Linked DNA regions of Homo sapiens. The protein of the gene in region 1 interacts with the protein of each later gene in a pairwise test. Each region holds a gene or a part of one and is shown in the gene's direction. Other genes may lie near its edges. The genes, in order: ALG9 and BHMT.

What was found.
Region 2: the proteins of ALG9 (region 1) and BHMT interact in a two-hybrid assay, tested with the Homo sapiens proteins (one large-scale study listed by BioGRID and IntAct).

The regions. Positions count from the first base shown.
Region 1 is NC_000011.10:111,836,838-111,840,660, reverse strand, and holds part of ALG9 (alpha-1,2-mannosyltransferase ALG9), read left to right. Parts: coding exon 1-6; intron 7-2,261; coding exon 2,262-2,412; intron 2,413-3,045; coding exon 3,046-3,193; intron 3,194-3,823. UniProt on the Homo sapiens protein: Mannosyltransferase that operates in the biosynthetic pathway of dolichol-linked oligosaccharides, the glycan precursors employed in protein asparagine (N)-glycosylation.
Region 2 is NC_000005.10:79,110,047-79,113,969, forward strand, and holds the start of BHMT (betaine--homocysteine S-methyltransferase 1), read left to right. Parts: upstream 1-1,762; 5' UTR 1,763-1,839; coding exon 1,840-1,872; intron 1,873-3,923.

The DNA.
Region 1 (3,823 bases):
CTTCAGGTGAGTTTCAGGGAGAAGTGTATCTGCCTCATTCTTTTTTACTTATTAAATAATTGCTCACAAACTTAAGTGCAAATTACAGAATGCTTCCACCTAAGATATTTTATCCATAACATTAAACCTGATATAGATCATATTATTAAACCTTCTTATATTGATTGCTTAGCTGTTTACCATACTTGTATTTGCTGATTACATGTTTGCAGTGTTAATTTGTGTGTTACTTTGCCTCTGTTACCAACAGGAATCCAATTGCAGAATTCCATTCTGTGGCAGAAGTAATGGAATGTCTGCTCTTTGAACTGCTAGATCATAACAAAACTTGCTCAAGAGTTTGGGATCACAGCAGGCAGTTCACAGTATGGGGCACTTTGTAATCCTGGTTGAAAACCTGCCCAGGTCAATTCTCTGGCAGAGCTCATCTTAACTCTGTTTGAATATCTCTGTACTTACGGCTTCAGTAGCCTCAGAACCCTGTATTGCCCTCTGCTACCATTTGCAGTTGGCAGAAAAAAAATAATTAGGATGATAGGTTTTTTTCTTAACAGGTTTTTTGAGATATAATTCACAAACCATACAGTTTACCTATTTAAAGGGTATGATTCAGTGGTTTTTAGTCTATTCACAGATGTGTGCAGTTGTCACCACAGTCAGTTTTAGATCAAAAACCCTGTACCCTTTAGCTATTGTTCCCCCATTCCCTTTCTCATCTCTCACCAGCCCTAAGTAACCATTAATCTACTTTCTGTTCTTATAGATTTGCCTATTCTGAACATTTCCTATACATGGAAACATATGATATGTGGTCTTTTGTGACTGGCTTTTCTTAACATAATGTTTTCAAGGTTCATCAATATTAGGTGATAGTTTTAAAAAATAATTTTAATTATAAAAGTAATTGAACTTTATTGCAGATAATTTAGGAAGTAGTAAAAGAAAAATTAGTCACATTAACCTAACAAAAACTCCTCCCAGCATTTTTGTATATCATATACCAAGGTTTGTTATAGTTGTAATAATAAGTATACATGTAACTTTATATCCCCCCCCCCCTTTTTTTTTTTTTGAGACGGAATCTTGCTCTGTCGCCCAGGCTGGATGGAGTGCAGTGGCGCAATCTCGGCTCACTGCAAGCTCTGCCTCTCGGGTTCACACCATTCTCCTGCCTCAGTCCCCCGGGTAGCTGGGACTACAGGCGCCCGCCACCACGCCCGGCTAATTTTTGTATTTTTAGTAGAGACGGGGTTTTCACTGTGTTAGCCAGGATGGTCTCGATCTCATGACCTTGTGATCCTCCCGTCTCGGCCTCCCAAAGTGCTGGGATTACAGGCGTGAGCCACCGCACCCAGCCACTTTATATCCCTTTTAATTTAATATTGTAACATTCTCTGTGCTTATCATTTTAGTAGCTGTAGAATGTTCTGAGTTGGATATAATATATAGCATTATTATGTAATATGTAATATATTGACTTGACTTTATATAATGTAATTATTGGATATAATTCATGGTAGAATTTAGGTTGCTCATTTATTCAGTATTATGCTAGGATAAATATCTTCATTTAGATATTTAGATTGATTCCTCAGGATAGATTCCAAAAAATATGAAAAAGGTTCAAACAGATTTATGCCATTTGTTATATATTGGAAAATTGCTTTCTGTAAGTAGTTTCTGTCTAGAAGGGAAGGAAGGAAGGGAAGAAGTCTGAGTAGAAGGTACTCAAAGACAGCAGAATTCATGCATGTGTGTTTATATTATATTCATCTAGTTTGTAAAGTCATTCAGCATATAATTAAGAGCATGTTCCTAGTGTTCTATAAGGGGAATTCTTTTTTCTTATTTGGTCATGAGACCTTTTTTTGATACTAATAGCTTTGATAAAAACTTTGATAGTAAAGATTAGTACTCATTATATCAAAAACAAATTGGAATACTTTATATATCAAAACTACCAAAAAAGCATTGCTTAAATATTTAAAAAAAATAACTTATTAGGACTATAAATGCTAGCAAAATATTCAAATAATTTTCCTATGAAGCTAGTGAGATTTTATTGTTGGCAAGCCCTCTGCCTGGCCAAGACTACAGGTAGTCTTAGAGGAGTTGGCTTTTATCTTAGAGTTTGGAGTAGGTACCTCACTGTTGGCAAATGCTCAGATCCCTAATAGAACCTCTTTTTTGGCTTCGCTCTTGATGTTACTGTGATGTCTTGTAATTATGTATATTCTACAAATTATATTTTCTTTTATCAGCACAGTTTTCTGTACTTCCAGAAATGTTACCACTTTGTGTTTCAACGATATCGCCTGGAGCACTATACTGTGACATCGAATTGGCTGGCATTAGGAACTGTCTTCCTGTTTGGGCTCTTGTCATTTTCTCGCTCTGTGGCACTGTTCAGAGGTAGATCTTCTAAGAATATCTTAACCTACACTGACGAGTCACTTGCTCTTAGGTTTTACTTGATTCATGATTATATAATACATATTTGGCTTATACTAAGAAGCCATTTCTAAAAAGAGAACCTGTAGACTTAATATTAATGAGTGGCATATGACTTCTGTATCTTAGGATTGAAGAGAAGATTGAGAATTCCTTTTAGTGTGATTAACTGTACATTTTTTGTCTATTTTTGTTGTTTTTTTCTTTTAATGGATGCTGATAAATTAAGGAAGCCTTAAACTTAAAATGCAAATTTGGGCTAACATTTCATGATTATATTCTTTCTTATAATCATTGTTTGGATCCATAATATTAAAAATATGCTCAAGGAAAATGAAGGTAAAAAGAAGAAGGAGCATAGAGAGGGGCAAGAAAGCCAATTATTTTTTGCAGAATAGGGCCTCTGCTGTAACCGTGTTCCCAGCTAGAGAGACATTTTATACCTGCAGAGCAGGCTTCATGCTGGAATGGCTATGGCCCTTCCTGCCTTTTAAATTTCCTGTGGCTTACAGTGCGACATTAATGAGCAGTATAATTAAAGTGAGAATCTCATCTTACTCATCTCTGGCTCTCACTAACTGTTCTCCCTTCCAGGATATCACGGGCCCCTTGATTTGTATCCAGAATTTTACCGAATTGCTACAGACCCAACCATCCACACTGTCCCAGAAGGCAGACCTGTGAATGTCTGTGTGGGAAAAGAGTGGTATCGATTTCCCAGCAGCTTCCTTCTTCCTGACAAGTAAGTTGTCCTTTAATTCCTAGGGTTTTAAATGAAGGAGTAAATAGAGCAGTTCTATATCAGTGTCTTCTAATTTTTGTTTTCTTTTGGAGTTTTCACAGAGAGTTATTGAATTATCTACCACGTCGGAGAGCTGTGGGGCCTGTGTACTGTGTACCTGCCTCCTGTGTTCATTAGGCTTATTAGGCTGAGGGCTGGGTCTAGGTAGACATTCTGCACTGCCCATAACTGCAGGTGTCTGGGGACTTCTGAAAATGCCCTGGGTCCTAGGCTTTTGCCAGTGGCTCTTCGTGGGGATTCATATTTACATTTCTATAATGATCTGATGTTAATCCTCTTCTAAAAGTGGTCTAGAAACTCCAGCTAGAAGAGAGAAGACATTCTTGACCCAACAGTAGTGAAAGTTCTCCACCATTATGTGGACACTGGGGAAGGCTGTGGTTAAAATGTCTATACCAGTTTCCTTTATGCTTTCTGTGGTTCTGAGAGCATAGGCCCTAAAGTTCTTTGTAGTTTGCTTCATTTGGCCAGAGAAGAGTCCTGTGTAGGTTAAAGGGAAATCTGGTTAAGATGAGTCATGTTGCTCCATTTGAGAAATGGCTTCAGTAGCTTGGCTTTACTGGGTAGTAG
Region 2 (3,923 bases), on another chromosome or scaffold:
CCTAGTGCCAGATACCCACGACTGCGGCTGCTCCCTGCAGCCACCGCGGGGCTCACTCTAGACCTGTTCATCTCACCAGTGCTCACCAGGTGAATACCTTAACTAGTTAACGCATTAACTAACTAAACTGTTACCTATTCGGATACTCCAATGCCTTCAAGGTGTTTTTTTTTTTTAATCTAGGTACTGTGAAGAATGACTTTACCTCATGCCTCATTCTTGCTGACCCCAGATCACAGTTGGGGGTGGAGGAGCCAATGAAATAATAGATCACTTGAATAACAGTATATCCTTTCACCTTTTCATTTCTTTTTCCATTTTAAACTTGACATACTTAGAAGCAAAAGGACATTTTTACTTTCTCAGTTGTATTTCAAACACATGTCACTTTAGCCGTTAAATTTGTATTAATTCATCAGGTGTTGCAGTAACTTTCTTCTCTGCATGTGTTGAAATGGAGGTTGTTTGTCCACATACAGAATTTTTTTACATGCTTTTATTTGGGTAAAATTTTCTGAACTGTGTTTCAGATATTTCATTGTTCTGTAGGCTATTTACTGTCATGCTGTACATTTTTTTTTCTTTTGAGACAGAGTTTCACTCTTTTTGCCCAGGCTGGAGTGCAATGGCACAATCTCGGCTCACTGCAACCTCTGCCCCCAGGGTTCAAGCGATTCTCCTGCCTCAGCCTCCCGAGTAGCTGGGATTACAGGCGCCTGCCACCATGCCCGGCTAATTTTTGTATTTTTAGCAGAGACGGGGGTTTCACCATGTTGGCCAGGCTGGTCTCGAACTCCTGACTTCAGGTGATCCACCCGCCTCACCCTCCCAAAGTGCTAGGATTACTGGCATGAGCCACCGTGCAGGCCATGCTGTACATTTTTTAAAGTAATGTTTTTATTATTTTAAAATCAATGTATTCTCATTATAAAAATATTTTGGAAAATACAGTGAAACATGAAGAATAAAATAAAACAAGCCTTAATTCCGCCATCAATAGGTAACTACTGTTAACATCTCTATTCCCTCCAGTTCTTCTAATGTCTATGTTTTTATATCGTTTTCATGCTGAATTTTGAAGTCTTCAAAGTACATTTCTGCTTCCATTTATAAATGTTAAAAGTCTGTCCTTGTTAAATATTACAAACATATTCTTATTAGAAACTACTGTGTTATTAGAAACTGCAAGGCATGTTTGGGTATAGGGGTAGAAGGTCATTTTGAACATACCCGCCAATTCAGGGTTAGTATTGGACTCCTCTACTAAAGCCGCATTTGTGTCCCGTTATACTGGATGTATATCACACAGGAGATCACACTCCAGGCTGAAGATCTTCCAGGACTTCATCCCCTGATTCCATAATCTTGACGCCTTGGCCTTTGACAAATATCTGAGCATCGAATGGACTTCTCAGAGGCCTCTCTGGCAGCCTAAGTGGGCCATGGTGCATGATCCCAGGTGAGCGAGAGGACGGTCAGGGTCGGGGCAAAAGTGCAAGAGGCAAAAGGGACGCTAGGCAGGTTTGAAATCTGAGCGAGTGGCAACCTCGCTTTTTCTTATCTTACTTTTCGGTGGTTCCACCCATTTGGGTGAACAATCTGGATTACCTCCTTGGCAGGCCAGGTTCCCAACAGGAGGCGGGCCTGATGAAGGGCTGGTGGGCGTGTTCCCGCCCAAGGTCCGTGTTGGCCCGCGCGGTGGCTGGGAGGCCCTCCCCACGCCCAACTGCGGGTATAAAGAGGCAGGCTGCGGACTCGGAGCAGCTCGGGGCTGCGCAGCGGGAAGGCTCGCCTAGTCGGTCCGCATCCGTGTCGACCACCTGTCTGGACACCACGAAGATGCCACCCGTTGGGGGCAAAAAGGCCAAGAAGGTGAGTCTCCAGGGGACCCGAGGGCGCTCTCCTTCCCCTCCCACCTGCTCTGTATCCCAGCCTCTGGGAGCGCAGAGGGGCCCTCGGACCCTGCCTGGTACCCATCATCCTCCTACTCCCTCCCCTCCCTCAGCCTCAGACCAGAATGTGCTTCCAGAACTTCTCCAGCAGGACCCCAAGGCGCCTCTGAGCCTCCCCACTCCTGCCCCACGTTCAGAGCGCGCCCCCAGAGCGCCTCTGTCCCCTCCAGCCCCAGCCCAGCTTGGACCAGAGTGCGCCCCAGATCTATGTGATCCTTGCCTCTCAGACCCAAAGGCACCCTCTGAGCCCTCCCTGACGGCTGGGTGTCCCCAGAACTCCGAGCCTTCCAATATCTTCTGAATCTGGCACCCCAAGACCAGAAAACTCCCTAGAGATACTGCTCCTAGCCCCGCAGGCGCGATATCCCGTCCCCACGGAGCCCCTCCGCATCTGTGTCCGAGGCCGCCGCGAGCGCCCTCTGCACCCGGCGCGCCCAGAACAGGGAGGAGTGCACGGCGCTGGCTCCGACATTTCCCGCCTGGATCTGCACCGCGGGTGTCGGGGCCGCCTCCCCGCCGGGTTCTCGCTGCACCCAAGGCCCAGGCGCTGGTTGGGTGATTGCAGATTTTCACAGGCAATTTGATGTCCGTGATGACAGAAAAATGTCATCCGAAATGTCAGCCTCGAAAACATGGTTTAAGAAAAAATGGGCAGAGTGGCTGTAAGATACTGAGGAAGGGCTGTTGATGAAATTGTAAAACCCAATTCCAGCTCCAGATGAACAAGTCCATCTCTTGGCTATCCCAGTGGCTTGTTGGGAGGGGTATTTTCAGTCCAGACGGTAGGCCTTCCTCTAATTTGGGGAACGGATGGATAGATGGACTGACTGCCGTGGAATGAGACTGGACAGGTGGGAAGAGAGAGAGAAGGATGGAGGGAGGAGAGAATAAACTTGACCTTTTGGTCAAATGCCCAGTCCCAGGCCTGGCACGACAGAGGCCCCCGGAAAATGGTAGGGAGGCAGATGGGGCCAGGCCAACTGTATCCTCTGGGCTGTAAGGACAGTGAGAAAGGTCCAGCTCTCATCCCAGTGCCTGCCCTGCTGGAGAACCAGCTGAGGTGTGCCCAGTTTCTAAAGGGATGGCCTCCCAAATCAAAAAGACCTCTACACAAGGAAGAAGGTCAATTCGGTTACAGATTCTAAATGCAGCATCGTGGATGCATGTTGATGGCATGAGTGGGTGTTGAGATGGCAAAGGACTATGGACTATCACCAGTCAAAGGAGGGTGAGAATTTCGCCAGTCCCTAAATGTACTAAATGAATAGTCCACAGAGACTGGGAAGGATGATTCCTATAGATATAGATATTTTTTGTTTGTCCCCATTCTCATAGCCACGTAAGTCTAACTTATTCCCCAAACTCAAACTCAGAAAATCTAACATTTTAAAGAATTATCTTTGTAGAATTATCTAAGCAACAGATGAATGTAAGATGGAAAAAACAGTTTCCTAGTAACTTGTTTCCGTGCATATGTCAGTGTTAAAACAATATATGGACAATAACATGTCTACACATTTGAGTTTAAAATTAAAATAAATGTTACAAAGTTTGCACATGTTCATTATAAACAATGAGGGAAAGCACAAAGAACAGTGCCTGTTAAATTCTGGTGTATATTCTGCTAGTTTGTTGTTGAGGCAAATATGCACTTCTTAGACAAAAATGGGCTGATATTACATATACTGTTTTGTAATACTTTTTCACAAAATGGTATATTTTTTTCATAGCACATTCCACCTTTTAAAAAGTCTGTTTAGCTTGGGAACAGAAAATCCTGAAGTCTAGATAATTTTAAAATGCAATAGAATGTAAGAGATCATATTTCCAGAGGTAACCACTCAACAAGTGCATGAGCCACATAGTAATTGAATCGCCACTACCCACCCTGCCACCCAGCATCAGATCCTTAGCTATGCTGCACATTAAAATGCTGTGGTACTAAAATTTGAAAACACACACGTTCAATGG